2 separate regions of the Homo sapiens genome follow, and region 1 is linked to region 2. The links come from fine-mapping of genetic effects on plasma protein levels. A gene starts in region 2. The other region holds a variant in brackets. All regions are shown on one strand. Distances are between the middles of the regions. Region 1 has its middle 11 kb from the start of SEMA3E. Region 2 holds the start of SEMA3E (semaphorin 3E).

The links. PIP is the chance, under the fine-mapping model, that this variant and not a neighbour inherited with it causes the effect. Sun 2018 read protein levels with aptamers (SomaScan).
Region 1: its variant is fine-mapped to the plasma level of the SEMA3E protein (Sun 2018, PIP 0.95).

What each region holds. Positions count from the first base shown.
Region 1 is chr7:83,659,082-83,662,004 of GRCh38, forward strand. No RefSeq gene overlaps it. Among named protein-coding and RNA genes, the nearest start is that of SEMA3E, 11 kb to the left of the region's middle. The variant G/A (reference allele first, on the strand shown) is at 1,294.
Region 2 is chr7:83,647,696-83,650,618 of GRCh38, forward strand. It overlaps SEMA3E (semaphorin 3E), which reads right to left and starts at 1,444. Exons shown (of 17, transcript NM_012431.3): 1 at 733-1,444. The coding sequence starts at 847.

The sequences.
Region 1 (2,923 bases), 11 kb after region 2:
GGATCCCAAATTTATACAAATAAACTCAACCATTCAACCCTTTCCACTAAATTACAGATTTTATATCCACTTGCCTTCCAGATATCTCCACTTGCATGTTTAATAAGCATCTGTACCTTAATATGTTCTGGTTTCTAACCTGCCCTTTATTCCCTCCATCTATAAACCTACTTCCACCCTCTAAATAAATGAACACATCTAGGTCCCTTCCCACAAATGCTCTTCTGCTCCATGTCAATTAGGATAAAAATAAAATCCTTATAGTTGTCTAGGAAGTCTTTCTTGATGCGGACTCCTACTATATCTTTGACCTTATCTATCATTTTCTTTCTCCCTCACCCCATTCAAGACACATTGAGTCCCTTGATAATTCTCAACCTAGGTAAGCGTTCTCCCACTTCAGGGCCTTTGTGCATGCTGTTTTCTCTGGCTAGAAAGCTCATCCCTCAGAAATACATGTTTTACTCGTAGTAACTCTAAATTTTTATTGGAAGTCAAAAAGTTAAGAAAGTACAATTACTAAGAAAATAAATGCTGAATATAATTAATTGTAATGTATAATGCTAAACACTAATTTCAACTATCTACAAGTATCTGTAATAATGATTTTAGCTGGAAAGAATTTTTTAAACCAATATTTAGAGTAAAAGAGCATATGTTGAATCCTGGTTTAATACTATGTGGCTCAGTGATGCCCATGATCAAAATATTTAACTTTTTCTGAGCATTATTTTCTATCACCTGTATCATAGATGTAGTAATACTAACTTAAGTAGAATACATATTTTGAAACCCATATGATTATACTCAAACTTTTTATATACAAATATTTCTATATTTTTATATGTTCTTCATGTTAATGTTAGCATATTCAAATATTTAAATAGGTTTTCCTGTTTCAATTTTTGGGTTATGAAAAGGTCTGCATGAAAGTTTATAAATATGTTAGTTATTTTATTTGTACCATTTGAACAGTGGGTTATTTTTTTTTCCTTAAAAACTACTTCCTGGCTGGGCACAGTGGCTCATGCCTGTAATCCCAGGACTTTGGGAGGCTGAGGCGGGCAGATCACAAGGTCAACAGATCGAGATCATCCTGGCCAACATGGTGAAACCCCGTCTCTACTAAAAATACAAAAATTAGCTGGGCATGGTGGTGTGCGCCTGTAGTCTCAGCTACTCAGGAGGCTGAGGTAGGAGAATCACTTGAACCCGAGAGGTGGAGGTTGCAGTGAATGGAGATCGTGCCACTGCACTCCAGCCTGGCAACAGAGCGAGACTCCGAAAAAAAAA[G/A]AAAAAAAAAAACAAACCTGCCTCCTGTAGGTACTTATGACAATAACATAAAAAGCATAATTGATTTTTCAGGATTGAAATAGCTTAGCTCTTGTATTATTCCTAATGTTTCATATTTTCAAAAGCATTGCTGTAAATACAGAATGTCTCCTGTGTACTGCTGAAGAGATGTAAGTAGCAACCTAATACCTCTTTATTCTCATTAATGAAATGAACGACCTCTGCAGAAAGACAGTATACTCTTTCAGAATAAAAGAAAGTTATTATCTCATCAGAACCTTTAGATTACTTACCTTTTGACTTTCTTTCAATCCATCAGCCTCTCTTATCTTTACTTTCTCCTTATCCTGCTGAGAGTCTAACATTTCCCTATTTCAATAATGCTATTGCCAATAGCCTAAACTACTTAGTCCCTCTCTCTTATTCTTCAACCATCAGGCAAAACACAAGCTCTGGATTAACATGATTATCTAATGACATGGTTTAGCTTTGTGTCCCCACCCAATTCTCATCTTAAATTTTAATCCCATAATTAATACCCAAGACTAGGTAATCTGTAAAGAAAAGAGGTTTAATTGACTCACAGTTCTGCATGGCTGGGGAGACCACAGGAAACTTACAATCAGGATGGAGGGCACATCCCCACAGGTAATGAGGAGGACCCGGTGGGAGGTCACTGAATCATGGGGGTGATTCCCCCATACTGTTCTCATGATAGTGAGTGAGTTCTCACAAGATATGATGGTTTTATAAGCATCTGGCACTCCTTTTCTCTCCTGCCACCTTGTGAAGAAGTGCCTTCCATCCTGCTTGTAAGTTTCCTGTGGTCTCCCCAGCCATGCAGAACTGTGAGTCAATTAAACCTCTTTTCTTTATAGATTACCTCGTCTTGGGTATTTCTTCATAGCAGTGTGAGAACGGACTAATACCTCTGCTTTCTCTATGTCTAGACAGAAAGTAGCTAGGCATTGTCTCAAAAAGTCATGACAAGGAGGATGGATATTACACTGAAGGTATAAACAGTAACTCACTTGGGCTCTCTTCACTGTCTAGCAAATTTAGGATCTTTAGCTATTAAACTCATAGTCTCACTCTTCTTGGTACTTTTTCCCAAAACATTCCTTCTCAAATGTGTAAGCTACCCTTCCGCAAAATCTTTCCTCATTTATAGCATATAACCTAGATGTCTATTTCATAGAAAAAGCTAAAAACGTAACTGCATATATGCTTTTGTTTCCTGCACACATTTCTGTTGATTAATTGTTGATTAAGGAGGGATGTGGTATCCCTCCTTCATCTGCCATTGATATTTCTAGCTATAGGTTGAACTCTATTTCTTCCCCCTTCTTAGGAACTGTACATTACAAATTGTTTGTCCCCTTTCTCTTTCAATTGCTCTTTTTAAAGTAGATGTATAAATGTGCTCAAGTCTTCATATTAAAAAGAAAAACAGCAATCTTCCTTCAAACTCCTTTTCTCTATACTATCTATCTCCTCGACAGCCTCTTCCCTGTTACAGCAAAGCATTCTTTAACGTCCCCTTTACTCTCTTTTTTCTATACTTCATCTTTCTTTTCAAATTGTTATTGTCAGGCTGCTGATCCCATCACATCACTACATAGGTGAGTGA
Region 2 (2,923 bases):
TTTAAACATTTGCTGTTAGATCTTCATTAAGGCAATATAAATTTACACTACAAATGCTAGTGAATACTAATACTTTAATCCATATTAGCCATTTTACAAGCATTGTCATAAACTATTTTCCTTTGCCACACATGAAAAAATTCTAATAATCAATTCAACTGGAAAACTAATTTATATTAGTTGTTAATCATTTTAATTACATGATGATGACAGTTATGGGTAGGGCATCATTTTTCTCCTCGGGATTTTTATTTTCTCCTCTTACCTCCATTATGGAAACAAAACAAAACAAAAACAAAAAGAACAAATTGCACCCCTATTTCTATAGCCCTTTCCCAGCATCCTTGTTTCTCATATGCATAAACTGATATTTAAATATCTACTGTTAACTTGGTGGATTCAGCCTCTCAAGGCTATTTTCAACCTGCTTCCTCCCTTCCTGTGTTCCGCGGGCTAGTGAGTGAACTCCTTATTGATAAAATCCAATGTTTACAGACAAAAATAACATCTCTAAGTTGACATGTGATTTTGCACTGTTTTCAGATGAGGTGAGTATGACACATTAATCAGAGGTACTTAGAATTTTAGGTCAGTTTTGCAATAAATTTTTCAGGTGCATTTTAAAGGTCTTTGAAGACCATAAGCCTATGTTAATGTTAAACGACTTTTTTTTTCTTTTTTCTTTTTCTTTTTTTTTTTTTTTAAACAAAAGGATCTGGAAAGGTAACCTACCTTTATGTGACAGGCGTAACCGGGGGTGGGTAGTATCAGCTGTATGACCTCCTGTCCAAAGCTCCAGTAAGTAACCCCACAGGAGCAAGGTGATAATGTGCCCCGCGGATGCCATGCTGCCGTGTTCACCGTCCAAGCCCTCGCTCCTCACTTTAAGGAGGGTCTGAGTTTTACTTAGGACTTCCCTCCAGGGGCAGCGTGCGAGAGGCTTTGTCAGAAATCGAACGCGTTGTCATCAGAAAGCACAGTTCCGAAGTGCCATTTGTCAGGCTGTATTTGGCTATGTAAAACCTTTCTTTCCTCGGGACAGTTGTTTATAAGCCGGGAGCAAGAGGACATTCCAAAGAGTGAGTCTTCAGAGCCATGTCCTGTCTAGAGCGCTCTTCAGCAACTACGCCGGTAGATTCAGGAAGAAGCTGTATTTTTCAGTCACTTGGGCAAAGCTGTTCATTCAGAAAAAAAAAAAAAAAAGAGAGAAAAAAACAAAACCGAGCACACGCACTCCCTTCTCCCGTGGAGGTCCTCTCTTCGGGCTCCTGGAAGCCTCTCAGAAGTCAGCCTCTTGCACTGACTTGCCAAACTGCTAGTTTTAATTCACCTTTCACCTTGCTAATTAAAAACAAGAAGTGCCATTCCCTCTAGGAGTCGCAGGATCCACCCAGCAGGGATGCAGTCTGTCAGTGGCTGTTTACAGGAAAGTTCAGGCAGGGTTGAGCAGCGTACTTGCTGTTTCTAGGAAGTATTTCTGGTCCACGTGCCTCGCTCCCATCCTCCCTCCCAGTCATAACCAGCCCCACGTTACTCAGCAGCAGGAGAGAAGTCCACATTTTGATGGGGGAAATGGGGAGTTCGGGAGGGGTGATGACATAGACTGATTATTTAAGAATAGGTGACAGACAAGGATGTGGCATCAGAAAGCGCTTTTAAATTCTTACCAAGATAAATTGACCTAAGTTGAATAAATCCAACTTCTTTTGAAAATAATCTATTTGTAACCATCCAGAATCCAAATTCTGTTTTTCACTGTTGCCATAAGGTTTTTTTCAAAATTAAGTCTTTTTCTATTGCTTATATCTTAGGGATGTTATTTTTAAACTCTTTTAAGAAAAGTGTGTTTCAAGAGCCTGAAAAAAAAAAGTTCATCTGTGACTGTCTCATAAATTTGATAGAAATGATAAATTATTTACTTAAGCAAATTGGTCAAATGAAATTAAAGGCAAATCCTTTGTCCTAAAGCAATTCCTAAATTTTACTTCAAATTTAGGAATGTTGAAGTAATTTCCCCCAGGTAAGGTAACTGGCAAAGTTGAGATTCACCACCCAAGGGATTTCTATAAAGCAGGTATTAGAAAACTTAGGATGTGCAATACCTTAGGATTCAACTGCTATGGACTTCCAGAGTTGATTTTCCAAGGCACTGTGTTTGTGTAAATAAGCTTAACACAATAGGTCAACTTTACAATCTACCTTCAATCAATCTCAAAAACTAAGCCAAACACTCAGGAGCTGTTGGCATGGAAATGAATGGTATTATGTTAAGATACCAATAAACTTGAATAGATATTTGATTTGATAGTGGAGAGTTAAATGGTAAACACTGATCTCAACTATGATAACTTTTTCTTATTCTGTATTTTAAATGCTAATAGTTAAAAACTTTTTGAGAATTATGTTTTAAAATCACGAAACTATAACAAAAAGATAACATGTGTCACCCTGATATTTTTGCATTATATAGAAGCATATGTACAGCCAGGCATTCTCTACCCATTTTTCTAATCATGAGATGTTCTTGTACAAGCAGAGTATATTTAGCAAAATGTAAATGTCACTGGACATTATAAATAATTAGATTTCCAAGGTCTACAAAAGATAGCAAACTCTAAACATTATTTAACAGTAAAATGACATGAAGTTATTTAGAGACTTTTAACCTGGAATGCTTGCATATTTTAAAAGCCAGTCTGATGAGCTACAGACCTAAAGGTTGCTCTAAATGTGATACATTGTACCTTCAAAATTCTCTTTTGCTTTCTTCTAGGATGGAAACAAATGACAAAATAAATAGCAGCTCTTATATGTGTTATCTAATAGTAGGATTATAGGAAAAGTAAATGTGGTGCCTACACCTTTTATTGCAAATTCATGGCTACTCTCACATAGCTGAAATTCTACTTAAGATTGCATAGTG